Regions from separate parts of the Homo sapiens genome. Here region 1 is linked to region 2. The links come from fine-mapping of genetic effects on gene expression. A gene starts in region 2. The other region holds a variant in brackets. All regions are shown on one strand. Distances are between the middles of the regions. Region 1 overlaps LOC105371348 (a long non-coding RNA gene). Region 2 holds the start of TMEM231 (transmembrane protein 231).

Region 1 (15,253 bases), 220 kb after region 2:
AAATATTTTGTCAATTTTGCCTGGCATTAATATAGCTACTCCAGCTCTTCTGGTTATTGCTGGTGTATCTTTTCCATCCTTTTATGTTCCATTTATTTGTGTCTTTAAATCTTAAGTGTCTATTGTAAATAGCATATAATTGTGCTGTGTTTAAAAAAATCCATTCTCCAAATCTCTTCCTTCTAGTTTGACAGTTTGATCCACTTACTTTAATATAATTACTGATAAGATAGAATTATTTTTTGCTATTGTGCTATTTGTTTTCTATATGTATTATGTCCATTGTATTCCTCAATTCCTTGATTCTTGAATGCTTTTGTGTTAAATAGATATTTTATAGTGTAACATTTTAATTACCTTTCATTTCTCTTAAAATATATAATTTTAGTTATTTTATTAGTGGTTGCCCATGGTATTATAATTAATATTTTAAAGTTTTAAAGAGACAGTGTCTTGCTCTGTCAATGAGGCTGGAGTGCAGTGGCAGGATCATGGCTCATTGCAACCTCAGGCTCCTGGGCTCAGTGATCTTCCCACTTCTGCTGCAAGTAGATGGGACTATAGGCATACGCCACCATGGCTAGCTAATTTTCAAAAATTTTTGTAGAGACGAGGTCTCCCTGTGTTGCCCAGGCTGGTCTCAAACTCCTTGCCTCAAGTGACCCTCCTGCCTCGGCCTCCCAAAGTGCTGGGATTACAGGGATGAGCCACCATGCCCAGCCCAATATTTTAATTTATAACAATCTAGTCAATATAATACCAACTTAATTTTAGTAGTATACAAAAGTTTGCTCCAATGTAACTCTGTTTTCTTCCTTTTCTTTTTACAATTTATTCTTATATATGTTTTTAAGAGATGGGGTCTTGCTGTATTGCCCAGGCTGGTCTTGAATTCCTGGGCTCAAGTGATCCTCCTGCTTCAGTCTCCCAAAGTGCTGAGATTACAGGCATGAGCTACCATGCCCAGCCTACCTGCCTTCTTTATGCTGTTATTTTTACAAATTAGATCTTTATTGCTTGTGTACCCATCAACATAGACTTATAATTACTGGTTTATGTAGTTGTCTTTTAAATCAGATAGAAGAAAAGAAAATAACTATAAACAAAAATCATTTATGCTGTCTTTTATATTTAACCATATAGTTAACATTTACCAGTACTCTTTATTTCTTCATTTGGGTTTGAATTACTGCCAAATAACTTTCATCTAGGCCTAAAAGAACTCCTTTAGTATTTCTTGCAGGACAGCTGTGCTAGCAATGAATTCTCTTGGTTTTTTAAAAAAAATCTGGAGATGTCTTAATTTCCCCTTCAATTTTGGAGTATAGTATTGCTCTATATAGACTCCTTGATTGACAGTCTTTTACTTTCACTGCTTTGAATATGTCATCCTATTGTCTTATGTTCTCTTTTCCTTGATTTCTAATGGGAAACAGCTATTAATATTACTGAGAAGCCATTGTATATGAATCATGTCTTACTTGCTGATACCAAGTTTTTTCATCTTCATTCTTTAAGAGGTTGATTATGTTGTATTGAGGTATGAATCTTTTTAGTTTATTACACTTGAAGTTCATGTGTGCAAACCAATATTTTTCAACAAATTTGGGAAGTTTACAAGCATTATTTCTTCAAATATTGGTTCTTGACATTTCTCTCCTCTCCTTCTGGGTCTCCCATTACATATATATTGGTACTTTCAGTAATTTCCCACAGGTCTCTGAAACTCTGTTCATTTTTCTTTGTTCTTTTTCTTTTCTGTTCCTCAGACTGGATAATTTCAATTGACCAATTTTGAAATTTGTTGATTTTTTATGTCTTTTCATATCTGTTACTGAGAACCTGTAGTGAATTTTTCTTTTCTGTTATTAAGCTTTTCAATTTTATAACTTTTATTTTAAAGTTGAATTTTATAATTTCCATCTCTTTATTGATGTTTTCTGTTTGGTTAGACATTGTTCTCATACTTCTTTAGGCACACTCTCCTTTTGGTCTTTGGGCATATTTAGACTAAATGATTTAAAGTCTTTTCTAGTAAGTCCAATATCTGGGCTTCCTTTAGGACAAATTCTATTGATTGTTTATTTTTATGTATGTGTGTTGGCAGTACTTTATTTCTTTGCATGACTTATAATTTTTTACATTATTGAAACCTGGACATTTTAATAGGTATTATGTGGCAAGTTTGGAAATCAGATTTTCCTACATGTCCATGGCTTGTTTTTATTGTTGCTTATTGGTTATTGTTACCTGTTTGCGTACTTACGTTTCTTTTTTTTTTGAGACAGAGTCTTGCTCTGTTGCCCAGGCTGGAGTGCGGTGGTGCGATCTTGGCTCACTGCAAGCTCCGCCTCCCGGGTTCACGCCATTCTCCTGCCTCAGCCTCCTGAGTAGCTGGGACTACAGGTGCCCACCACCATGCCCAGCTAATTTTTTTGTATTTTTAGTAGAGACAGGGTTTCACCATGTTAGCCAGGAAGGTCTCGATCTCATGACATTGTGATCCACCCACCTCGGCCTCCCAAAGTGCTGGGATTACAGGCATGAGCCACCGCGCCCGGCTCTTACTTACATTTCTAAGGCAATTCAGTAAAGTTTGTATTCTTTGTCATGTATGGGCATTGATGCCACTACTCAGTTAGCTTAGTGGTTAGCTAGTAATTAGACAGGTTTCCTTAGAGGTCTGGAATCAATAAATCTTTCATTTGCTGAAGGGCTCTCTGTGCATGTTGGGTCATGTCCTCAAAACTTAGGCAGCTTGTAACTCCATCTAAGCCTTTTCTTACTGCCTACATAGATCCTCAAGGTAAGCAGAGATGAGAGCTGAGGGCCTTTCCAGGTCTTCCCTGAGCTTGTGTACTATCCTGGGAGTACACATGGTCATTTAGATCCCTGAGATTTTGTCAGAGCCTTCTGATGTCCTTCTAGACATCTTATTTTCAAACTTCTATTTTATTTTCAAGGTTTTTGGTTAGTCCTTTGTTTGCCTCAGCTGTTGTTAATCTCCTCAGGCAGCCACAAAGTTAAAACACTTGCCTGTAATTGTCTCCAAAAATAACATCACCTGACAGAAATCCTCTGAAGTGAGTGAGCTCCAAGGCAGCCTCTTAATGAGTTTTTCAAGAGAACCACCAGACAAATAAGAAATGATAATATTGGCTGGGTGCAGTGGCTCATGCCTGTGGTCCCAGCACTTTGGGAGGCCAAGGCAGGTGGATCACGAGGTCAGGGGATCGAGACCATCCTGGCTAACATGGTGAAACCCTGTCTCTACTAAAGGTACAAAAAGCTGGCTGGGTGTGCTGGCAGGCATCTGTAGTCCCAGTTGCTCGGGAGGCTGAGGCAGGAGAATGGCGTGAACCTGGGAGGCAGACCTTGCAGTGAGCCAAGATCGTGCCACTGCACTCCAGCCTGGGCGACAGAGCAAGACTGTGTCTCAATAAAAAAAAAAAAGAGATAATATTTTGGGAATTATACTTTGAAAGAGCTTCATCTCTATTCTGGTCCCACTGATGACTGCTAGGCAGCACCAGCAATGCAGATGAGTATTTTTCAAGGCTTTTTCTGAGCTAGAGAGTGGGGGGTGGGACCAGGGAAAGTTAAAATGTCACAAAGCTAACTTTTCTTACAGCCATCCAGCCATTTTTCTTGAGTAAACTCTCCCCAGGTCATGGGAAGCTTTTAATTCTTTTTTTTTTTTAAATTTCTACATCCACTTCAGTCACACAAAATCTTTTGATTCATTTCTGGAGATCTGAAAAAGGTAATTCTGACCATTTAAATAATTTTTTCATTGCTTTTATGGAAGGGTGAATTTTTGAGGGTCCCTGCTCTGCCATTTTTGCTGATGTTACCACCATCAAGATTTTCTTCAGCAGGGGTCTGCAAATCTTTCCTAGAAAGGTACCAATTGTAAATGCTTTAGGTATTGTGCTTCAGATTGTGTTTGTCACAGCTACTCAACACTGCCATTGTAGTACAAAAATAGCCATTGTAAGTATATAAATAAATGGCTGTGTTTCAATAAAACATTATGTATAGAAAAGTCACAGACTGGATTTGGCCCAAGGATCATATTTTGCCAACCCCTCTTTTTAAAGATAAAAAACAACCTTAGAATCCTTCTCAGACCACACTGCTCTTTAGTCATCTTCTTTCTGTTCTCACAGAGGTTGTTTTTCTTCCAACTGAGATACACTAAGATGTTTAAACATTTAAGACATATTTAATTCTGCATTTTTACTATAATTCAGAAAATTTGTTTTTGTTGCTTTCAATTTTTATTTACATTTCCCCCCTGAATTTACATTATTACTGCAACCAGAGAACCAAATCAAAATAAATTGATTCATTATCCTCCAGAATATGGGTTATGTATTAGATTCCAAAGGAAGTAAAACAAGTTTAAAATATACAAAGTTTCAATTAACTTTATTTTTGTAGAGTGTAGAACACTGTCTTACTTACATAAACTATCCAGTGGTTAAAAAAAGGTGCTGATCAGGAAATGGAGAGTGAATGGGAGCATTAATGGGAATATGTAGAAAGAAATCTTACACTAAATAAAATATCCAATAGAAGCTTTGATTGGAGACCACAAGAGGCCATATATCTTTTGAGTCAAAGAGAAAACTCTTGGGGTTAAAAAGAATACAGTTAATTTCTATATCACTGATATATAGTAGATTACCAAAAAAGGTAATGCAGAGTGAAAAATAAATTCTAATAGAATCCCAGTGAACTGTAAGGTAGGAGGTATCTTATCTCTAGGTAGGTAGCTGCTTACCAGGTATATTTTGATGACTACTAAGAAGAGCCTGTAGATGTCCTTCTACTTCAGCTCTTCCTGTGATTTCATAAATACTTATTTCACAGGCCTTTTCCTGATGAGTAAAATAATGCAATATATGTGTAATTTTTTGCTGTCTATGATCATCTTCTTCCTGATTCCTAGTTTGATTTAGACTTCCAAGAAGTTAGAATGTACAAGACATTGGGTCCCAGTAGAAAGAAAATGACAGATGTAAGTAATGGTGAAAAAAAGGGAAGTAAAATGACATTAGAGGAAGATAATCCCATATCACAATTTTGCCTGTGGTCCTTCTAGTAGTTGAATTTCTTTGTCTCTTAGGTTTGCATTTGCTATCCTTGTCACTATCTTCTTCTCCTTCTCCTCCTCTTCTTCTTCCTCCTCCTCTTCTTCTTCTTCTGAAAGAAAGAAAGAAAGAAACATGGCTATATAGTGTTGGAGCAGCCCTTCCACTGAAAACAACTATAAAAGAAGGAAGAACTATGAGTTTTTGATGGGATAGCAGAGCTACCAAAGCAGTAAAGATTTGATGAAACAAATTCCCAGAAAGAAGGTAATCCTAGGATTTGAGCTCAATATTTGGCATAACTTATATCTTCAACGCATTTGCTGATAGAGAAAGCAGGAGCTGGAGATTTCAGCTGAAAACCAGAGCAGAAAGCAGTAGCCAGCATCCGAGCAGAACATTTGCCAGTTTCACAAAACTGGAGAGATGAATATTGAAGATCACAGCTAGACAAAGACTACAAATAATGTAAAGTCTTTAATAGTCTTTAACAAACAATGTAAAGACTTTACAAATAATGTAAAATGTTCAAGAAATTAAATGATCAAATAGAACATTTAAACAGGAACTGGAATTTTTATTCCAGTAATTGGATTTTTTATTCAATCCAATAAAAAGGATTGAATACCAAGTCTAGAACTGAAATATGCAGTAACTGAATATTAAAAATTCAATGGATGAATTTAACAACAGATTAGATGTAGCTGAA[A/T]TGAGAAAATTAGCAATTTGGAGGATAAATCTAAGAAATATACCAATAGAGAAAGGAAGAGGCAAAGTAATGGAAGATAAAAGACCAAAGAGAGAATGAAAGGTCTAACATATATGTTATTATAATCCTTGAAAAAGAGGAGAGAAACCATAAAAAAGAAAGAAATCTTGTATCTGAAAATCTACATGCTGCTACTATCAAGTTATTTGTTTGTAAGTGTATTACTCTTAAGCTTTAGAGCACTTTACACAAGTTTTATAATACCTTCCAATATTTAAATTTTTAGTATTTTAATGTTAAGTAGATTTTTGTCTTTAACCTATTCTAATTATTTATAGTAGATTAAAAATAATTGCATAATGAAAATATATTGTTTTACATTGAAAAGTCATGGATAATTAAAAAGAATTATAAATTAAACACTAAAATTATTAAAATGCAAAAGTTTCTTCCTTTTTAATTTTTTTTTCTGAGACAGGGTCTTATTCTGTTGCCCACGCTGGAGGAGTGCAGTGGTCCTATCATGGCTGACTACAGCCTTGACCTTCTGGGCTCAAGTGATCCTCCCATCTCAGCCTCTTGAGTAGCTGGAACCACTGGCACATGCCACCATGCCCAGCTAACATTTGTTTTTTTTCATACAGATGGGGTTTTGCTATGTTGTCCAGGCTGGTCTCAAACTCCTGAGCTCAATTGTCCCACCTTGGCCTTCCTAAGTACTGGGATTACAGGTGTGTGCCACCACACCCAGACATTTTTAAAAAATTAAATTAAATTTATTATTTTTTTTTGGTAGAGATGGGGTTCTCACTTTGTTGCCCAGGCTGGTTTTGAACTCCTGACCTCAAGTGATCCTCCTGCTTTGGCCTCCCAAAGTGTTGGAATTACAGGCATGAGCCACCAATCCAGGCCCAGGCAAAAGTTTCTAAATAAAATTTGGCTACATTTTATGTCTGAGTACGTAGAGTTTTGTTGCTGCTGTTGTCATCCATGGTGGGGGGTTAACAACTCACAAAAACTACTACTTATAAAATTATCAGCTATACAATTATTGGACAAAATATATTATTTCACTCTATACATAAACAATTCATTAGAACTTGAAGGAATTGTAGAATATGGAAGAGATGCTTCTGCTGAAATAAGGAGAATGTGAAATACCTCCTCATGGAATGCTGTCATTTTCACTTATCAGTTCCAAATATTAGGAAAGAAAACTCTGAGTAGATTATAGTCTGATACATAATGGCATAATGATAGCTGTTAAATAAAGAAACCACATGTAATTATCAAATTTTGCATGAGTCAGTTGCTTTTCAGTCTCACTAGAGCTGAAATAAAAGTATTTTAAGTCTCTTTCATTTCCCATTTTGACCCTGGGATGTACTCATTTGCCCGGCAAGAAAATTTCCCCTAAATGACTCTAAATGGAGAGATGAGGGACAAAGGGAAAGCAAATACAAAGATATATAACAAATAGCTTGGATTATACATGAAATAATTAACAAGCCAATGTTCCCCAGAACTGGCAATCCACTCACAGAACAAGAATTCACATGTGCATTTGACAAATAATACAACCAATTATGCGTAAGTCTGTGCTAGATCCATTTAGACTCACAGATACAGGCATTTAATGAAATGTGGAAGATATTAGTTGTAACTTCTATCCAAAGCCTAAATCCTGTGGAATATTCCAGGCCCATGGGTAATGGGAATCTACTTGAAAGCATCCAGTGATCAGAAACACACTAGCTCACTTTCAGATGGAGTTATTTTTGCAAAGTTAGAGATAGTGTAATAATACATGCCTCCCTGAAATTTTCAAATGTTGGTCTTTGTTTTCTTTCATGAAGCTATGCAAAAATTGTATAGTTCCTATTTAAAATAGCATACTTTCTGAGATCTGTAAACAGATATCATGATCTTAAGTCTTGCTTTCTCTAGGCCAAATATATTTGCTTTTAAAAATTAATATTCATATAATTCAGTTTTTGGGCAGTTCAATATCTGGCTAACTTTATCCTAGATTCATCCAAGTTTGTCAGCATCATTTGTAAAACAAAGTGCTGACATTTAAACACAATACTCTGTCCAGTTTTATTTCTCTTTCTCCAACTAGATGATAAGATCCTAAAGGAATTGGAGGAGAGGAGACTCCTTGTAATGAACAGAATTAATGAGAATCTGGAAGATCTTGGTAGTAAATTAATGAAGGTCTATGTATTTTTCTCTCAAAATGAAGAAATAAAAATATCAGAAATTTAAACAAAGAAACTGCTTACTTAGTTTATTATCAAAATAAGAATATAGTATAATGTGGCATAATTTTGAATAATCTATGGAGAGGAAGAGTAGAAGCTCCATTTGATTAGATTCTAAGAACGTTCCCCATCAAGGGAGTGTGTTGGACTTCTGAGAAGGAAATCTAATTATAGCACACTGTGGCTCTTGAGAAAATTATACTTACATAGTTATTTTTAAAATTAAGTATGTTTCTTGTGGTTTCAATGAGGTTGAAGTGATGTTTTTCAATCAAAACTAATTTTTTTACCTGTGTATAAGCAAACAAGATTCAATTATAGCTACTTAATGCAAATATCATTTACTGTGTTGATAGACAAGCAAAATTCTACTTGAGAGAAGCTGGGAGGTTGAGGAGGGAGTTGCTGAATTAAAGAAAACGATAGGGTTGTTAATATCTTAATTTTGCATAATGGGGAATAAAGATATATTGTCTGAAGTTAACAGAATAATGACTGTGAGGTATATCTTCTATTTATCAAACTGGTAAGGCAATAGTTATATAAATTTCTCAATCTATAAATAATATAATATAAAATATAAATGTTATATATATTAAATAATATATACAATATTTTTATTATAAATATAATAATATTTATAATATGGGGTATGTTTCTGATGAAGAGAACTGGGAGCAGGCAGATCTATTATCACAGGACTGTGTATTATTTGTATATTTTTTGGTATACTTGTAGTACTTGATAAAATTATATAACATTAAATGAAAAATACACAAATGATTTCAAAACCTAATCAGTTCTGGTTCCAAAATGGCAGTGTAGAAGCAAGCTGGCTTCACATCCCTACCCAGAAAACAAAAAATAAATATACAGTGCTGAGATTATCACCAGCAATATCCCAGAATTCATATATGGGAATGAGACAGTTCCCAGGGCCATGGAGAAGTGGAAAAAATCTGAGTATACAGTAAGATAATTGGACTTCCATATCCACAACACCCTTCCCTCTAATCTGTCTACCACCAAGCCATGCAGGAAATTTCCCCTTGATTCAGGGTTTCTGCACTGGAAAAAGTGAGGTCAAGATGGACCACCAGCTTCCACACCACCTTGATTCACTGGCAGGATAACATAGTGACATAGTGAGACCCAGTTTCTTAGACATAGTGAGACCCAATTTCATAGGGCCATAAAGACCTAGTAACACAGTGACAGTGAGACTCAGTTTCTAAGACAAATAACCCTCACAAAAAACCCCCAAAATATAGAAAATCAACAAAATGGAAAGTTGGAAAGAAAGTTTTAAAAGATACATAAAATTGACAAACATTTAGCTAGACTAAGAAAAAAAGAGAGAAGACCCAAATAAATAAAACTAGGAACAACAAAAGGAGACATAACAACTGAGGCTACAGAAATATAAAGAATCATTAGAGACAATTCTGAATGATATGCGAACAAATTGGAAAAATCTAAAAGAAATGGATAAATTCCTGACCCACCAAGACTGAACCATGAAGAAATGGAAAACCTTAACAAACCAATGATAAGTAATGAGATCGAAGCCATAATAAAAAGTCTCCTATTGGCCAGGCGTGGTGACTCACGCCTGTAATTCCAGCACTTTGGGAGGCCGAGACAGGCAGATCACAAGGTCAGGAGATCGAGACCATCCTGGCTAACACGGTGAAAACCTGTCTCTACTAAAAATACAAAAAATAAATTAGCCGGGCGTGGTGGCGGGCGTCTGTAGTCCCAGCTACTCAGGAGGCTGAGGCAGGAGAATGGCGTGAACCCGGGAGGTGGAGCTGGCAGTGAGCTGAGATCGTGCCACTGCACTCCAGCCTGGGCGACAGAGTGAGACTCCGTCTCAAAAAAAAAAAAAAAAAAAAAAAAGAGTCTCCTATAAAAGAAAAGCCCAGTACCTGATGTCTTCGCTGCTGAATTCTACCACACATTTAAAGAGTAACTAATACCACTTCTACTCAAACTCTTCAAAAAAATTGAAGTGGAGAGAACACTTCCAAACTCATTCTATGAGGTGGACATTAACCTGATACCAAAACCAGACAAGGACATGACAAAAAAAGAAAACTACAGGCCAATATCACTGATGAATGTAGATATAAACATTCTCAACAAAATACTAGCAAACCAAATTCAACCACACATTAAAAAGATCATTCATCATGACCAAATGGGATTCATCCTATGGATGTAAGTATGGCTCAACATATGCAAATCAATAAACATGATACTTCACATTAATAGAACCAAGAACAAAACCCATATGATCACTTCAATAGATGTCAAAAAAGCATTTGATAAAATTCTACATCCCACCAGGCACAGTGGCTCACACCTGTAATCCCAGCATTTTGGGAGGCCGAGGAGGGCAGATTGCTTGAGCCCAGGAGTTCCAAACCAGCCTGGGCAATACAGTGAAACCTTGTCTCTACAAAAAAGACAAGAATTAGCCGAGTGTGGTGGCAAGGGCCTGCAGTCCCAGCTACTTGGGAGGCTGAGGTGGGATGATTGCATGAGCCCAGGAAGTTGAAGCTGTAGTGAGCTGTGATCGTACCACTGCACTCCAGCCTGGGCGATAGAGCCAGACCCTGTCTCAAAAAAAAAAATAAAACAAAATAAAAAAATAAAAATAAAAATAAAGGAAAAGAAAAGGAAAAACGAAAAAAAAATCTATATATTTTTCATGACAAAAGTCCTCAAAAAAACTGATTATAGAAGGAACATACCTCAAAATAATCAAGGGCATATGTGACAGACCCACAGCTAATGTACTGAATGGGGAAAAATTGAAAGCCTTTCCTTTAAGATCTGGAAGAAGACAGGGATGCTTACTTTCACCACTTTAATTCACCATAATACTGGAAGTCCTGGCTAGAGCAATCAGGCAAGAGAAAAAAATCGAGGGCATCCAAATTAGAAAAGAAGAAGTCAAATTAGCCTTATTCACAGATGACATGATCTTATATTTAGAAAAAACCAAAAGACTCCACTGAAAAAGTGTTAGAACTGATAAATGCATTCAGCATAGCTGCAGGATACAAAATCATACAAAACCAGGAGCATTTATGTATGACAACAGTGAGTAATCTGAAAAAGAAAATAAGAAAACAATTCCATTTACAATAGCTACAAAGAATATAAAATACCTAGGAATCAATTTAGTCAAGTGAAAGATCTATACAAGAAAAAGTATAAAAGAGTGATAGAAAAATTGAAGAGGACACAAAAAAGGAAGGAGAGTTCATGCTCATGGATTGGAAGAATTAATATTGTTAACATGGCAATACTACCCAAAGCCATTTACAGATTCAATGCAATCTCTATGAAAATATCAACGACATTCTTCACAGAAATAGAAAAAAACTGCTAAAATATACATAGAACTACAAAAGACCCCGAATAGCCAAAGCAATCCTGATCAAAAAGAACAAAGCTAGAGGCATCATATTATCTGACTTCAAAATATACTAGAAAGCTATCTTAATAAAAACATCTTGGTACTGGAATAAAAACAGACACATGGAAGAATGGAACAGAATAGAGAATTCAGATATAACCCCATATATTTACAGCCAACTCATTTTTTTTCTTTCTTTCTTTCTTTCTTTCTTTCTTTCTTTCTTTCTTTCTTTCTTTCTTTCTCTTTCTTTCCTTTTTTTTTTCTTTTTTTAAATGAGACAGTCTCATTCTGTTGCCCAGACTGGAGTGCAGAGGGGTGATCTCGGCTCACTACAACCTCTGCCTTGTGGGTTCATGTGATTCTTGTGCCTCAGTCTCCTGAGTAGCTGGGACTACAGGCTTGTAACACCATGCCCGGCTAATTTTTGTATCATTAGTAGACATGGTGTTTTGTCATGTTGGCCAGGCTTGTCTTGAACTCCTGGCCTCATGCGATCCATCTGCCTTGGCCTCTCAAAGTGCTGGGATTACAGGTGTGAGACACCGCACCTGGCCTATAATCAACTCATTTTCAACAAAGAAGATATAGTGGGGAAAGGACAGTCTTCTCAATAAATGGTCTTGGGAAAACTGGATAGCCATATGCAGAAGAATGAAAGCAGACCCCTGTCTGTCACTCTATACAGAAATAAAATCAAAATGGATTGAAGACCTCAATATAAGACCCAAAACTATAAAACTACCAGAAGAAAACTTTGAGGAAATGCTCCAGGACATTGATCTGGGCAAATATTTTTTTGTGTAAGACTTCAAAAGCACAGGCAACAAAAGCAAAAATAGACAAATGGGACTACATCAAACTAAAAAGCAGCAAAAGAAACAGTCAACACAACGAAGAGATAACCCACAGAATGGGGGAAAATATTTGCAAACTATGCATCTGACTAGGATTAACAACCAGAATATATAAGGAACTAGAAAAACTCAATAGCAAGAATACAAAATCCAATTAAAAAATAAGAAAAAGATCTGAACAGACATTTCTGAAAAGAAGACATAAAAATGACCAATGAGTATATTAAAAATAACCATCATTGATCATTAGAGAAATTGAAATCAAAACCACAATGAGATATCATCTTAAGGTAGGAGGCAGGACTTGACTCCAGAGGTGGGACTTGAACACCGGACTAGATTGAGGACTAGCTAAAACAGGGCTTGGGTGGAAGCAGCTTTCTAATCAGATTCACCCACTAATGTGCCATATGAATTTACCATTGCCATGGCAACACCCGGGAGTTACTGCCCCTTTCTATAGCAATGACCAGATGACACCAAAGTTAGTGCCCCTTCCCTAGAGATGTCTGTGCAAACCACCCCTTAATCTGCATGCAATTAAAAATGGGTATAAATATGACTGCAAAACTGCCCTAAGCTGCTACTCTCTGTCTAGAAGGTAGCCCTGCTCTGAGGAGGAGTCACAAAGCTGTAACACTGCCTCTTCAATAAAACTTTCTTCCACCTCCTGTTTGTCCTTGAATTATTTCCTGGGCAAAGCCAAGAACACTCTGGACTAAGCCCCACTGTGGGGCTCACCTGCCCAGCTGAATCAATCTTACCTCAGTTACAATGTCTTTTATCAAAAGACTAGAAATAACGGATGCTGGTGAGGATGTGGAGGAAGGCGAACTCTCATACACTGTTGGTGGGAATGTAAATTAGCACAGCCACTTCGGAAGACAGTATGGAGCTTTCTCAGAAAATGGAAAATAGAACTGCCATATGATCCAGCAATTCCACTACTGGAGATATATATAAATGAAAATCAATATTATTGAAGAAATATCTGCACTCTCATGTTTATTGCAGCACTATTCACAACAGTCAAAATATGGAATTAATCTAAATGCCCATCAATGGATAAATGTGGTACATATATACAACAGAATATTATTCAGCTACAAAAAAGAATAAAATCCTGTCACTTGCAGCAACATGAATGGAACTGGAGGTCATTATGTTAAATGAAATAAGCCAAGCATAGAAAGACAAATGTCTGATATTCTTGCCTGTGGGAGCTAAAAAAGTGAATCTCATGGAGATAAGTTGCTTTCAGAGGCCAGGAAGTGCTTATCAGAGGCCAGGAAGAGTAAAACGGGGAAGAGAAGTTGATTAATGAGTACAAACATACAGTCAGATAGAAGAAATAAGACCTGGTGTTTAGACAGATCAGTAGAATGACTATAGTTAACAATAATCAATTACACATTTCAAAATAGCTGGAAAAGAATAATTTTAATGTTCTCAGCATAAAGAAAGACAAATATTTAAGGTGATGGATATTCCAATTACCCAGATTTGATCTTTACACATTATATGAATGTATCAAATGATCACATATGTCCCCAAAATGTGTATAATCTGTTGTGTGTCAATAAAAAAATTGAAAAAAAAAAACAAAACCCCTAATCAGGTTATTGGATGAATTTAGGGTGGAGGTCAAGTAAGTGTTCTAATTTCTTCATTTCCTTTCATGAGCTTACTTTCCACTTTTGAAAACTTACTTTACTCATAGCCAAGAATACGTGAGCTTATTCTCCCTGCATGGGCTTGAATATGTTTGAAAAAAGATGGACCTAGTACAATCTGGCCATTCATGCAGCTGTAATACAGATCAATTACAGAAACGGGAGGTGGAATAAGCACTATCAATGTTGTTTGGAGAAAAATGTAAAAAACAAAACCAAATCATGAGGCATAGATATTGATGGCTGGCAAACAAATACAGAAAACAGAGCAACCTGGAATATATTGATCATAGGTGCCGTGGCTCATTGAGTCTGTTGGAGAAACAGGCAGAATTGAAATTCCAAAGATCCTAGTGAAAAGTGACTTAGCTGCTCACTGTAGAAAAGAATGTGGATCATACAGTAGATTACACAGCTACACTTGGACAGTGACTTCATCAGCCATGCGATATTCTAATTTGCAAAATGATGAGATGAGACAGGGGCAGCAACGGCAGCACAGAGAGATGACCCGTTCCACCTCTTCCTTTGGTGGCCACATTCTATATTTAATACAGAGAATATAAAGCCATAAACCAGCTTCCTTTTCTCTGCAGCCACACCTAAGAGAAAACATGCATATTCAGAACATACCATGGGCTCTTTTTCTCTCTAGCAGTCTGTATTTAGTCACATTTCAGAACTTCATGAGATGATGAATCTCCAGCATCTGAGAGGGATGTTGTGTGTTACTAGAATCATGAAATCATTTTGAGGAGCTAAGAGGCAAGGTACTAAGTAGCATTAAAACCTCGAGAACCTGGTATCTGAGTGATTCAAACTTTAAAACCTGAAATGCAGAGACTACGGGTAAGAAATTGCCTTACCCATATGCCTGATCACCACATTCCCCAGATTAAAATACAGTGAGAGTGAAGAGAGTCACATCAGCAAAATGGTGAGTAGACAGCTACAAGCACACATTTCTCTAAGAAACCTGGAAAAACAAGCAGAAACTGTCAGAACCAACTTTGTCAGAACTCTAAAACACTCAAAGATTTATAAAAACTAACTAAATGCTGAATCAAGAGTAAGATGACTTAAAAATTTTCCTTGCATTCAAGGAAATCCCTGTTAGTTGAACACAAGCTAAAGGAACAGAAACTTCAACCACACGTGATAAAAAATATAGTCTGCAAAAATAGTTTGAAAAAACTCACTAAATATATGACTGTGGTCTTCAATAAA
Region 2 (15,253 bases):
CCACCTTATATCTACAACGTATATACAGGCTTTGGAACAATTTTTATATCCATTCATTGTCCCACGTGATTCCTCTGCATATCCCAGGAGAGATGTGGGTACTCTCATGCCCTGTATATGGATAGATAAATTGAGGGTGAGGTTATGAAACCCAGTGACAGAATTGGGACTAGGACCTTGTGGGACAAGGATCTTGGTTTGCTGACTCCTGATTCAGGGCTCTTCTATAATAGCTCATAAGAACTCTAACTGAAAAGATTTCTCATGGTTAAAGGAGGATAACCCTTTAGAGATACACATGAAATCCACACGCATGTACTGAGCAGAGTCAGAGGGAATTTTTTTGTTTTTTTTTTGAGACGAAGTCTTACTCTGTTGCCCAGGCTGGAGTGCAGTGGCACAATCGCCACTCACCGCAACCTCCACCTCCCAGGTTCGAGTGATTCTCCTGCCTCAGCTTCCTGACTAGCTGGGATTACAGGTGTGCGCCACTACGCCCAGCTGATTTTTGCATTTTTAGTAGAGATGGGGTTTCACCGTGTTGGCCAGGCTATTCTCAAACTCCTGACCTTGGGTGATCTGCCCGCCTCAGCCTCCCAAAGTGCTGGGATTACAGGCATGAGCCACCGCACCTGGCCAGAGGGAATTTAACATAGGGAATAAATAGTCCCATAGGTATTAGAGGACTGAAGACGTAAAAAGGGGATATCCCAGCAACACAGAGATAGTAGCTGCAGGGAACATTTCCCACACCTAGGACTAGAGAAGAAGGGGAAGCGGGTGGGACTGATAGAACTTAGAGGTTCAGGGAAGAGGCCTCGAAGAGCTGAGCCTCAGACTTCAAGAAGGGACCGCGGCCCAGATGGGGCCAGGACCTCTGAGCTTGGAGGAAGCATGCACTAGAGGGAACCTTGAAGCCGGTAGGAGAGGCGTCCTGCTCCTTCCTGTTTGCTGGTTGTCCCTGTTTGTGGCATCCACAGTGGTTCTTCACCCTGGCAGTGGTGACTGGTTTCATTTCTTTTTTTCTGCACTCCCAGAACAAGGCTCATCATGCCTCCTACTGGCAGAACCTAACAGGAAGCTGCAGGGGAAGAAGGTGGTTTCCAGCATCTCAGCAGGAACCTGGAAGCTGAGCGTAGGAGGGTGGGTTTGGAGCTGAGACAATACCTCATAACCAGCACACCACCTGACTGCAGGAATTGCCAGAAATTCAAGTGCCATTGTTTCCAGAGTATCCTGATGTGTGACTTTTTTCCCCGTCAGGAATTCCCAGCATCTGACGGTTTGTTGGAATTTTGTTTGGTTTCTGTTTTGTTTGCGTACATTTCATTCATTTAAGTCGTATTCTTTTTTTTTTTTTTTTGAGATGCAGTCTGGCTCTGTTGCCCAGGTTGGAGTATGGGTGGTGCAATCTCAGCTCACTGCAATCTCCGCCTCCCGGGTTCAAGCAATTCTCGTGCCTCAGCCTCCCAAACAGCTGGGATTACAGGAACCTGCCATCACACCCGGCTAATTTTTGTGTTTTTAGTAGAGACGGGGTTTCACCATGTTGGCCAGGCTGGTCTAGAACTCCCTACCTCAGGTGATCCATCCGCCTCGGCCTCCCAAAGTGCTGGGATTACAGGCGTGAGCCACTGCGCCCGGCCCATATTCTTTTATTAAAGGTTAATTTCCTAGTTTATACCAGTGTCTATTTCACCATATACTTGTCATCACCGGGTGCTCCTTTCTTTTTAAGCTAAAAATACTCTTTGGCACCAGTTGTGGGTCTCTAGCAAAGCAGAAACTGCCACTTCGTGGTTCCTTTCCACCTTTCTACCTGTATTTCTTTTTTTTTCTATTTCTTTTTTTCTTGATACAGGGTCAAAAAAGGCTAGAGTGCAGTGGCACGATCACAGCTCATTGCAGCCTTGACCTCTCAGGCTCAAGTGATCCTCCCACCTCAGCCTCCTGAGTAGCTGGGACTATAGGCATTCACCACTACCCCTGGCTAATTTTTAAATTTTTTATAGTAGGGCCTCACTATGTTGCCTAGGCGGTCTGGAACTCCTGAGCTCAAGGGGCTAGCCTCCCAAAGTGCTGAGATTATAGGCATGAGCCACAGTGCTCAGCCTTGTATTTCAATCTAAGATACCATTACTTATAAAATGAACCATTATTTTATATACCACTGATAAAAGAAAAACATTTCCAATTAAACTATGACACTTTTCTAATCACTTACTTTTTAAAAAGTTACTAAAAGAGCTTTTAGATTTAGACATATTTACACAGATATGTTTATTTACTTAGAAAAATATAAGCAAAATAGGTCGGGGCAGTGGCTCACGCCTGTAATCCCAGCACTTTGGGAAGCCGAGGTGGGTGGATCACCTGAGGTCAGGAGTTCGAGACCAGCCTGACCAACATGATGAAATCCCGTCTCTACTAAAAATACAAAAATCAGCCGGCCGTGGTGGTGCCTGCCTGTAATCCCAGCTACTCATGAGGCTGAGGCAGGAGAATCGCTTGAACCCAGGAGGCGGAGGTTGCAGTGAGAAGAGATTGCGCCACTGCACTCCAGCCTGGGCAACAGAGTGAGACTTCATCTCAAAAAAAAAAAAGAAAAGAAAAGAAAGAAAAATATAGGCAAAATAAATTGATTCAGGGATTCCTAAAACTTCTTTACATCCTCATCCTTTTGAGTAACACTTTAACTCAGTCAACAACCCATACTTTTCTATGCAACTTTGTCCTTTGTGCCATCAAACATGTTGGTGATACAGCATTAAAAGAAAAACAAAAACAAAAAACAAAAATTCAGCTGGGCATGGTGGCTCATGCCTATAGTCCCAGCACTTTGGGAGGCCGAGGCAGGCAGATCACTTGAGCTCAGGAGTTCGAGACCAGCCTGGCCAACATGGTAAAACCTCATCTATACTAAAAATACAAAAATGAGCCAGGCGTAGTGGCAGGAGCCTGTAATCCAGCTCCTTCGGAGGCTGAGGCAGGAGAATCTCTTGAACCTGGGGGGCGGAGGCTGCAGTGAGCCAAGATTGCGCCACTGAACTCCAGTCTGGGTGACAGAGTGAGACCCTGTCTCAAAACAAACAAACAAACAAACAAACAATTCATAAAAGAAACTAAAAGCCATTGGTCTGGGCCCTTAAGCAGACTTTGAAATTATGGAGAGCTTTCCTGTTTTTAAAAGCCTCTCAAACTTTCCCTTACTTGCTCTCCATTCAATTCAGGGGTTAAAAAAATGTTCTACTACTGTCTCTGGGGTTTCCTCTGAGGTTGCTGATGCCCCTTCTTTTTAATTGCATTTTTATTTTTCTAACACCTACCTCTTACACAGAAATGATGCCCCTTCTGCATGTTTTGATGCCGGCACAGGTGTAAGCAATGAGAACTATGCCATACCTGCCTCCTTGCCAACAGTTGATAACCACAGACAGGAAGACACTGATTTCAGGGATGAGAAGAAACAGGTGTCTTAGAAACACGGTACTCTCCACTCATCCTCTGGAATCCTTCTATAACCTTCAGTCCCTGTATTCTCTGGGTCCACACATGCCTTCAAGAGCTATGTCAGCCTCCTTGAGGCTTGAGGGGGAAAAAGTCACTCTGCTTTTCTCTTCTCTCATTAAAAACAACAAAAACTAGACTTCCAAAGCATTAAACATGTAGGGAGCTTAGAGACGCTGTCCAGGATGAGCTGACCAAAGCAGAAGCAAGGCTGTTTGTGACTTCAGCATTTCCCCCAATTAGCCACTGCAAAGCCACCTCCCAGCACTTGGTCCAACCTTAATCAACAACCACTGTTTCCTTTGCCTTCTGGACAGTTTCCTGGATAGACTGACGTCAGTCTGGCTCTATGTTCAAAGTTAGAAAATAAAAGTAGTTTGTTGCAATAAGGGCTAAGATTTTAAGATATAGCATAAGAAATACTGAGTTCCAGTCCAGACTCTGTTCACTTCAAAGCAGTGGCTCACACCTGTAATCACACCTGTAATCCCAGCTCTTTGAAAGGCTGAGGTGAGTGTATTACCAGAGTTGAGGAGTTCTAGACCAGCCTGGCCAACATGGTGAAACCCTGTTTCCACTAAAAAACACAAAAAAGTTAGCCCGGAGTGGTGGTGCATGCCTGCAGTCCCAGCTACTTGGAAGGCTGAGGCGAGAGGATTGCTTGAACCCAGAAGGCAGAGGTTGCAGTGAGCTGAGATTGTGCCACTGCATTCCAGCCTGGCTGACAGAGTGAAACTCTGTTGCAAAAAAAAAAAAAAAAAAGAAAAGAAGAAAAGCTAGGGCAAATTGTACCACTTCTCTATTTCTTTTTAATTTTTTATTTTTTTGAAATGTGGGGTCTTGCTATGTTGCCCACACTGGCCTTGAACTCCTGGGCTCAAGCAATCCTCCTGCCTCAGCCTTCCAAAGTGCTAGGATTACAGGTGTGAGCTATCATTTCTGGCGGCAAATATTTTTATCTCATTTACCTGATCATTTAGAAATGTATCTCCAGGTCTTGAGATAACATTTGCATTGAAAATTCTCAGTTTCTCAGTTTTAGGCATTCTCTATTGAGTTCCCACAAGGAAAGATGATTTAGCTTCTTCTCTCCCCCAATTCCTCCCACCATCCCCTATCACATACCCAATACCTTTCTCATTACCCCCAATAGAGTTAAAATCTCTTTTTAGTAAACATTCAGTGTTCATATAATTAAGACTATGTCAATCCTATTCACAACTCTGATAACATTTTGGTTCTCAGTTTTCCTTACTTTTCATTTCCCTGCAGTTAATAATTATTTGCTTAGTTTTCTATGTACTTATACCATTTCATCAAAGAGCTGCTATTCCAATTCCTCAAAATTTGATGTTTAAAGGCATAAGATTTAGTCAAAACCTTGTTCATTGAAATATTGTCCCTAGGCCGGGCACAGTGGCTGACACCTATGATCCCAGCAGTTTGGGAGACCAAGGCGGGTGGATCACCTGAGGTCAGGAGTTCGAGACCAGCCTGGCCAACATAGTGAAACCCCTTCTCTACTAAAAATCCAAAAATTAGCCTGTAATCCCAGCTACTCGGGAGGCTAAGGCACGAGAATTGCTTGAACCCAGGAGGCAGAGTTGCAGTGAGCAGAGAATTGCAGCACTGCACTCCAGCCTGGGCAACAGAACAAGACTGTGTCTCAAAAAAAAAAAAAAAAAAGAAAAGAAAAGAAAAAAGAAAAGAAAAAAAGAAATGTTGTCCCTAATAGTGAAAAAGTCAAAGCAAACCTCAAAAAGAATACAGCTGATTAATAAGTATTGATACATATACAAAACTGAGCCTTCAATTTCTGTCATTATATCTACCTGTAACTCTATCATATTTTAGAATGAGCATGCACTTTTGTAATCAGAATATAAGAACATTTATAAAGTAATAGGAGAAAAGTAACCTGAATCATATTAGGTTGGTGCAAAAGTAATTCCGGTTTTTTGTCATTACTTTTAATGGCAAAAGCCGCAATGACTTTTGCATCAACCTATTACTATTTTTTTTGCAGTTATTTATACGACCAATCGGATTTTTAAAAACAATTTTATTTAGTTGCTGGGAACAAGTCTGATTTTCTTTTCTCCTCAGCTATACAAGGTTGGCTTGTAGGGCAATCATCTTAGATATGTCTGAAGAGATTCGAATTTGAAAGAAGGAAAACCAGAAGTTTCATACTTCTAAAGGAAAACGTTTTCAGAAAATGAGTGAAAAGGAGTGACTACAAAGGAAGCATTCGCTTATCTCAAAGCAAATACTAAATTACAGATTCCTCTCAGCGCTCTACTGGTGAAAAAATTTAAAAATAAATAAATAAATTACAGACAGTAACATGCTTCCATTTCATCCCGACAGCTTCAGGATGGCGCAGTCTCCAATGGGACAAACCCAGGGAGGCGTGACTCGGCCACAGCGCGTTCTGGGAAGGCCGCTTAACCAATCAGCGCCTTGGTTTCCAGGGGTCAGGTCTGCATAAAAATGCTGCCCTTTCCGTTCCTATAGTGGTGTGATGCAGAAACGCCGCGACAGAATGGGGTTATCTACATTAACAGCGCGCGGCCTTCCAGGCTCCTAAATGGACTTTCACAAACACCCTCCATCAGGCCAGGCCCGCGGGTGTGACCCGGGCAGACACAGGCTGCCCCCACACTTCTGGACTCTGTGTCAGGGCGCACACGCTGACAGCATGGCTAACTTTCTGGGGGCCGGGGACATCTGGGAGAAGCAGAATGAAACAGAAGATCGATTCCCTAGGTCCTAGGAGATGAAACGCCACCTTTGCGGGTTCGCGAGTCCTTAGGATCAAAGCTGGGCTCCCCAGGGCCGGGGCCGCTCGCCCCACATCCTCATTCCAGTCCCCATCCCCACCCTATCCCCGACTCTGCCCCAGGCCCAGGCGGGAACCACGCACCGAAACGAGCGGGACGCGCAGGCGATCCCCTTGCAGCCGGTTGAAGGCGGGGAACGTGCTCCAGGCGAGGAACCCGTCGCTTTCGGGTCCGAGCAGGGCCACGAGCAGCACCTGGTGTTGGAAGCGCACGGTCGGCTGCTCCTCGTAGCTGCTCCGCTTCAGCCAAAACCCTGAGTTAAAGAGGGCGGTAGGGAGGCGGTTAGGGAGGCCGGCCCTGGCCGAGCGCGCCCGGGGAGCCTCGTGGCACAGCGGCCGGGGCAGGCTCACCGTGGCTCCGGAAGGCCACCAGCAGCGGCGGGATGTACGTGAGCGCAGCGGCCAGCAGCAGGAACAGCGCGGCTTTGGAGCAGAGCCCCGCGCGGTAACTGCGCTCGACCGGGTGAGAGAAGAGCTCATAGAGCGCCATGAGCACCGCTCGCAGGCACTCCGCGAGCCGGGGGACCAAGTTTGGCTTCTCCTGGTTGCCATCGCCTCGGTCTCCACGGCAACCGACGGCTCACAGAAAGGAGCCAATAGCAAGGCCGCACCGAAAGGAGCCAGTGGCGGGGGCGGGGTTAGCGGGCGTGGCGCTGCCGGGGACGGTCGGCCTAGCTTTTCGAGCTGTGTACGTTTGCGTAAAGGCTGGGCGGCGATAGAACGTTTCCGTGGACCAGAGTCGTGGCTGTTGTCTGTGTTAACATTTGTGTAAAATAAGATGCCCATAAAAGTTGACTTGAACACTGAGGAGGAAGAACTAAATATTTAAATTTCAACTGACATGGACACAAACAATGGTCACCAAGTCCCTAAACAGGTTGTGGGAGCCCCTTGAGGCGTTCATCCAGCGCTGTTTCGGAGAAATCTCTATTTCAGTCTACTCCTATACGTCAGTTATTGAAAAACAACAATCGCAAAAACAAGTTGACCTTTTTGTGTTCCTTGAGCCCAGTCGCAAAGGGCCCTCGTGACTGGGCCTCATGCTAGACAACATGTTACAAAAAGATCTAGGGTCCCAGACCACGCCAAAAAGCTTCATGAGACCTCTCCTCGTCTGTGCACTGACGAGTGGCCGGCTCTGGAGCCCAGGTCGTTGCTTCCCAGTCTGGAGGTGAATCCTCCATAGTCTGGTGAGTGTAAATATATATATATATATGTCTTTTTCCTTCTCCTCTTCCCATTGCAATTTGCTTATTATATCAATCTGCTTATTATATTAATTTGCTTATTATAATATCTGCATTGCCATTTACGTGGGATAAAGCTTGCTTACCCTTAAAGGTACTGTGTGTGTGCCTTTTCTTCTCCCCTAGCGCGTCTCCCGCACAGAACGAACACCTGCTTTTGTGTCATCTGTTAACCCCCAGTGTGGTTCCTACTGAAGTCCAGTCAGTCACAAGCCTGGCCGTGGTCCTGGACCTGGTCCTGGGCTGAGATCAAAGCCAGGTGCTTTTGCCCCCAGATTTTCTGTTGCTTCCACTATGCTCCCATGCAAGACAGACACGGAAACACAAATCCCCTGGCTCTTCCACGGATAGAGTGGAATTACTACAAAGCTCTGATGCACTTCGTTAACCCTGTGTTGGGTACAGCTCAGCCGCGAGTTTTACAGGAATATATGGTCCTCCCCAAAGATCACTGGCTTATTGCTTAATTGAATGCCTACACCCCCCCGCCACCACCCCCAACCAATATTTCTAACATGGTAGAAGGACTTTTTAAAAAAATCTATGGTCCACAGCCAATTTCTTCATCAAATGGCCCTGAATGGCTGGGCACGGTGGCTCACGCCTGTAATCCCAACACTTTGGGAGGCCAAGGTGGGCGGATCACCTGAGGTCAGGGGTTCAAGACCAGCCTGGCCAACATGGTGAACCCTCATCTCTACTAAAAATACAAAAATTAGCCAGGCATGGTGATGGGCACCTGTAATCCCAGCTACTCTGGAGGCTGAGGCAGGAGAATCGCTTGAACCCGGGAGGCACAGATTACAGTGAGCGGAGATCACACATTGGACTCCAGCCTGGGTGGCAGCGAGACTCCATCTCAAACAACAACAACAACAACAAAAAGGTCCTGAGTGGCTGAGCACAGTGGCTCATGCCTGTAGGTCCAGCTACTCGGGAGGCCTGGGCAGGAGGAAGGCTTGAGCCCAGGAGGCTGCAGTGAGCCATGAATGCACTACTGCACTCCAGGCTGGGAGACAGAAGGAGACCTTGTCTCTAAAAAAATAAATACAAAATATTTAAATATAAGTAAATTTGTTAAAGGGTCAGTAAAATGACATTTAAGTGGAAAGACATGATAAGCTTTGTGATTTGGAAAAGTCACTCTAATGACAGCATGTCAGTAGTGTAAACCAAAATGTATCTGAGACAAGTCTCAATCAACGTAGAAATTTATTTTGCCAAGGTTAAGGACATGCCTGTGACACAGCCTCAGGAGGTCCTGATGACATACGCCCAAGGTGGATAGGGTATAACTTGAGTTTATACATTTAGGGAGACATAAGACATCAATCAATACGTGTAAGATGTACATTGGTTCAGTACTGAAAGATGAGACAAGTGGAGGTGGGGTGGGGCTTCCAGACCACAGAATTGGCAGATTCAGAGATTTTTCCAATTGTCAACTGGTTATTATCTAAAGACCTGGAATCAATAGAAAGGAATGTGTGGGTTTGTGGGCGGGGCACAGTGGCTCACGCCTGTAATCCCAACACTTTGGGAGGCCAAGGCAGGCAGATCACTTGAGGTCAGGAGTTCAAGACCAGCCTGGCCAACATGGTGAAACCCTGTCTCTACCAAAAATATGTATTAAAAAAAAAAACATTAGCTGCATCTGGCGGTGTCCACCTGTAATCCCAGCTACTTGGGAGGCTGAGGCAGGAGAATTGCTTTAACCCGGGAGGCAGCAGCTGCAGTGAGCCGAGATCATACCACTGCACTTCAGCCTGGGTGACAAAGTGAGACTCCATTTCAAAAAAAAAACAAAAACAAAAAACAATAAGGGGTTGTGGAGTCTAATGTTTTATCATGCAGATGAAGCCTCCAGGCTTCAGAGAGAACAGATTGTAAATGTTTCTTATCAGACTTTAAGAGTCTGTTCTATTAATATCAGTCTTAAGATCTATGTGTTGATGCTAATACTGGTCAGCTGGGTCTGAATTCCAAAAAGAGGAGGGTATAATGAGTTACGTCTGACTCCCCACTTCCCATGATGGCCAGACTAGTTTTTCAGGTTAACTTTGGAATGCCCTTGGCTGAGACAAGGGTTCCATTCAGATGGTTGGGAGCTTAGAATTTTATTTTAGGTTTACAGTATACCAGGATGGGGTCATTGAGTGAGGGGTGAGGAAAAACAGAAGTCAGGGAGACCAGTCAAGAGGCTGTTGAGGCTGGGTGAAGTGGCTCATCTTAGCACTTTTGTCAGAGGTGTTTGAACCAAAGCAACTCCATCTCGAATAGGGGCTAAGTAAAATAAGGCTGGGACCTACTGAGCTGTCTTCCCAGGAGGTAAGGCATTCTTAGTCACAGTATGAGCTAGAAGGATGGCACAAGATACAGGTTACAGAGACCCTGTGGATAAAACAGGATGCAGTTAAAAAGAAGCCAGCCAAGGCCGGGCATGGTGGCTCATGCCTGGAACCCTGTCTCTACTAAAAATACAAAAATTAGCTGGGCATGGTGGCGGGCACCTGTAGTCTCAGCTACTCTGGAGGCTGAGGAGGGAGAATCAGTTGAACCCGGGAGGCGGAGGTTGTAGTGAGCCGAGATCACGCCATTGCACTCCAGCCTGGGTGATAAGAACGAAACTCTGTCTCAGAGAAAAAAAAAAAAAAGAAAGAAAAAAGAAAAAAAGCCAGTCAAAAGCCACCAAAACCAAGATGGCCTTGAGTGTGACCTCTGGTCGTCCTCACTGCTCATGATCTGCTCATTGTAATGCATTGGCATGCTAAACGATACTCCCACTGGTGCCATGACAATTTACAAATGCCACGGCAATGTCCGGAAGTTACCCTATATAGTCTAAAAAGGGGAGGGACCCTCAGTTCTGGGGAAATCTCTGCCCCTTTCCTGGAAAAGTCAGGAATAATCTACCCTTTGTTTACCATATGGATCAAGAAATAACTATAAATTTACTCAGTCGAGTAGCCCATACTGCTGCTCTGTCTATGGAGTAGCCATTTTTTTTTACTCTGTGGACTTGCCCCAAATTCTTTCCTGTGTTGAGAGCCAGGAACCCTTTCTTGGGATCTGGATTGGGACCCCTTTCCAGTAACACTTTGGGATGCTAAGAAAGGAGGATTGCTTGAGCCCAAGAGTTAGAGGTTGCAGTAAGCAGTGACTGCACTACTGCACTCTAGCCTGGGTGACAGAGCGAGAGCGAGACTGTCTGAAGAAAGGGAAAAAAAAAAAAAAGCCCTGAAGGATCACATTGCAGTGTCAGGAGATGGCGTGAGGTTTGTGCTGGGTGGAGTCCAGTAGTTACTCCCACTACTTTGAAAGCAACCTCGAAGTGGCTTTTAGATGAAGAGAACAGCTGACATCCTAACATCACAGACTTAATAGAGAGGTCAAGACTGCCCATTTGGGAAAACCATCCTAGGGTCCTTACTACAGTCCAAGACGACAACGTCATCAGCCACAAAATGCTTTTGAAATATCAGGTTCAATACTACTTGTTCTTGATTAAAAGCTTTTCTGGGGTGGCAATGTAGTTTGTTGTTGTTGTTGTTTTTATACAGGGTCTCCCTCTGTCTACCTCCTGGGCTCAAGTACTTGTCCTGCCTCAGCCTCCTGAATAGCTGAGGCCACTATTCCCGGCTAATTTTTAAAAAAATTTTTGGCTGAGGCAGGACAATCACTTGAACCCGGGAGGTAGAGGTTGCAGCGAGCTGAGATCGTGCCACTGCACTCCAGCCTAGGCGCTTCCATCTAAAAAAAAATTTTGTTTTTAAGTGACAAAGTCTTGTCATGTTGCCCAGGCTGGTCTCCAACTCCTGGGCTCAAGTATCCTTCTTGAGTAATCCCAAAGTGCTGGGATTACGGGTGTGAGCCACTGTATCTGGCCTCAACATAGGTTTTTGTTCGTTTTTGTTTTTTTGGTGGAGATGGGATTTCGCCATGTTGCCCAGGCTAGCAGGTTGATCTCATATTCTGGGGCTTAAGAGATCCACCTGCCTCGGCCTCCTGAAGTGCTGGGACCACCACACTGAGCCTCAACATAGTTCTTAAATATAGCAATTGTTAAGGTTAAATCTATGGTTTGATTCTGACACACTATATCTATGCTTTAAGTGGATGACTTTCTTTTTTTGAGAGAGAGAGTTTCACTGTTGTTGCCCAGGCTGGAGTGCAATGGTGTGATCTCGGCTCACTGCAACCTCAGCCTCCCAGGTTCAAGCGATTCTCCTCTCTCAGCCTCCTGAGTAGCTCGGATTACAGGCACCTGCCACCACGCCCAGCTAATTTTTTGTATTTTTAGTAGAGATGGGGTTTCACCATGTTGGCCAGGCTGGTCTCAAACTCCTGACCTCATGATTCGCCCACCTCGGCCTCCCAAAGTGCTGGGATTACAAACGTGAGCCACCACGCCCAGCCGACTTTCATTTATTTATATAACCACAGGGGTCTTCTGGAATAGATGGATCTAGGGTCGACTCCTGAGAGTCACTATCCTGTGAGGAAGGAAGTGTTTGCCTCCAAAGCTCCTTCTTTCAATGGAAGGAAACAGATACTGTACCAAAGTCACTCCTGAAACAGAAGGAGGTGACTACTAAGAATTTAGGTGTACCAAGTGCTTCAGCCTTCCCTGAGATGCCATGAACTTTGCAAAAGTATTTAGTAATAATGGATACTATTTACTCTTTGCTTCCATGGTTTGAGAAAGCTCGTTTTGTAGTTTTATTTCAATTCTTTAAGAGAAAGTATAGATTTAAAAATGTTAAAGATCTGTGTATATGTGTCATTTCCATACACCCATGACTGATAACTGACTTCTCAGTTTCCACTTCCACAATGTTCTTGTTTTTCATACAATTTATTTCTGAGGACAAAAAGAGTCATCCTCTTAAAACTGCACTTTTTTTTTTTTTTTTTTTTTGAGATGGAGTCTTGTTCTGTAGCCCAGGCTGGAGTGCAGTGGGGCGATCTCGGCTCACTGCAACCTCCGCCTCCCGGGTTCAAGCGATTCTCCTGCCTCAGCCTCCTGAGTAGCTGGGATTACAGGCGCTCACCACCACGCCTGGTGAATTTTTTTTTTTTTTTTTGTATTTTTAGTAGAGACGGGGTTTCACCTTATTGGTCAGGCTGGTCTCGAACTCCTGACCTCATGATCCGCCTGCCTTGGCCTCCTAAAGTGCTGGGATTACAGGCGTGAGCCACCGCACCTGGCCACATTTTTTTTTTCTTGAGATGGAGTCTCACCCTGTCGCTCAGGCTGGAGTGCAGTGGCACTATCTTGGCTCACTGCAACCTCCACCTCCTGGGCTCAGGCGATTCTCATGCCTGCAGCCTCCTGAGTAGCTGGGACCACAGGTGCGTGCCACCATGCCTGGCTAATTTTTGTATTTTCAGTAAAGACGGGGTTTCACCATGTTGGCCAGTCTGGTCTAGAACTCCTGGCCTGAGGTGATCCACCTGCCTCGGCCTCCCAGAGTGCTGGGATTACAGGCATGAGCCACTGCACCCAGCCCCAAATTGCACATTTTAATCATGTTCTTCTCTCCTTTATAGGAGCTCTTATTCAGGGTCTCCTGAATTAGGTTAGAACTTCTGAATGTTTGCTTCAAAGCTTTCCAACATTTTATTTACTTATCTATACTGCTTTTCTGTTCCCTCTTCCAACCCCAGCCTTTGTTTTTATCTGGAAAGGAAAAGTTTACCCAATGAAAATGTACCCTTCTCTCTACAACAGAAGATTCACATTCTCTGTGAAGTCTTCCTTGCTAATTCTCACTTGGCTTTGTGCTGGCCCCTATTGCCCTAGCAATGCCTCAGTATCCATGTTCACATACCTCTCCAACATTTGAAATTCATTCTCTGTGTTTTATAGATTTGTTAATGTGTAATTACGTTGCATATATTCATTATCCTATTTCTCCTCCTGACTTACGTCCTTAACTAACCACTCCCTCAAGGAAGGCATCCAGTGTCCTTAGAACATTCCATAGCTAAATACAATGACCCAATATGTAAAGAAGGTGGTACATATCATCAAGGTGGATGAAATAAGTCAATTAGAATGGTGAACTGGGAAAACACACCAAGAAAGTAGGTAAGGATGGAAGACCAAAATGCATTGCACATCATTGAGACCATCAAAAGACATGTCTATGAATTGGTGTGCAGTGAAATTTTCCCCTAAGAAGTGTTCTCAGCTCTTTCACATGCAAGACAATATACATATATTTTGGACTAGGATGCAATGACCAGCTCTGTAAAGGGAAGCAGGGGTGTTGAGTCCAATTTCTAACTCCTCCACTGGTTCACTGACTAGGAGATGGTGAACAACCATCTTCATTCTTCAGTGTTTAATTCTATTTGTAAAATAGGTATTTTCTTTTTTTGAGACGGAGTTTCGCTCTTGTTGCCCAGGCTGGAGTGGAGTGGCGCGATCTCAGCTCACTGCAACCTCTGCCTCCTAAGTAAAAGCAATTCTCCTGTCTCAGCCTCCCAAGTAGCTGCGATTACAGGCATGTGCCACCATACCTGGCTAATTGTTTTGTATTTAGCAGAGACGGGGTTTCAACACGTTAGTCAGGCTGGTCATGAACTCCTGACTTCAGGTGATCCACCTGCCTCGGCCTCCCAAAGTGCTGGGATTACAGGCATATGCCACTGCACCCGGCCAAGTATTTTCATTTTTAAACTCACTGTCTACCTAATCTTACCCAGTTTAATAGCTTGAAATATTTCTCTCTAAATTTGAGACTCATAGCACCATTCACCAACTCTACATCTTCACTTGTGTATGTCCCTTGGACATCTCATATTTAATATCTCAAAAACCAAACTCTTGTTTTTCACTCCCCAAGCTGGCTCCACCCTATTTCAGTAAATGGCAATTCCATCCTTCCAAAAACCTTGATTTTGATCTGTCCCTCATGTCTTACATCCAATCTATCAGCAACTGTTACCAGTTTTACCTTCGAAATATATCCAGAATACAACTGCTTCCCATCACCTCTGTAGACCCCACCTTGGCCAAAGCCAACATCATCTTTCACCAGGATTATCACAATAGTGTCTCAACTATTTCCCTGCTTCCACCCTCAGCGCCTACAGTCTACTAAGCTAGCCTTTTGAAAAGGAAAGGCAGATTGTGTTACGTCTCTGCTTAAACCCCTACACTGACTTCTCATCTCATTCTAAATAAAATCCAAAGCTCTTTGCATGGAATTCAAAGCTCAACACAGTTTTGTTCTAGATATCTTTGAATTTGTCTCATAACACACTCTCCTCTCTCATTTATTCAGCTCCAGCCACAGGGGTTCCCTAGAATATGCCAGGCACTTTATCTAATTAGCATTCCATCCCACCACACTCTCTAGTCACCTACTGTGCTTTATTTTTCGAAATAGCACCTATCATTACCTAACATACTTATTTTTTGTCTTATCCCACTAGAATATGTCAGGGGGACAAGAATATCTCATGCTGCCACCCATGAGAATAGGGATGTCATCTGTCTTCTTCACTGTTTTTCCCCAGCACCTAGCACAGAGCTCTTGTATGTAACAATAATTTCTAAGTAGGAAATTCAAAGGATTTTTTCCACTTCATTAAAAACAAACAAACAGATGCAGTGGCTCACACCTGTAATCCTAGCACTTTGGGAGGC

The links. PIP is the estimated chance that this variant, and not a neighbour inherited with it, causes the effect. A credible set is the group of variants that fine-mapping cannot tell apart.
Region 1: its variant is the best candidate, but not a certain one, in a credible set for the expression of TMEM231 in whole blood (TOPMed, PIP 0.60).

Annotation. Positions count from the first base shown.
Region 1 is chr16:75,767,236-75,782,488 of GRCh38, forward strand. The region is part of intron 2 of LOC105371348 (a long non-coding RNA gene); the gene reads left to right. Among named protein-coding and RNA genes, the nearest start is that of CPHXL, 48 kb to the left of the region's middle. The variant A/T (reference allele first, on the strand shown) is at 5,806.
Region 2 is chr16:75,549,371-75,564,623 of GRCh38, forward strand. TMEM231 (transmembrane protein 231) reads right to left here and starts at 6,882. Exons shown (of 7, transcript NM_001077418.3): 1 at 6,701-6,882; 2 at 6,434-6,603. The coding sequence starts at 6,839. RefSeq lists enhancers at 809-878, 919-978, 7,093-7,172, 7,203-7,312 and silencers at 6,573-6,652, 6,943-7,052, 10,701-10,995.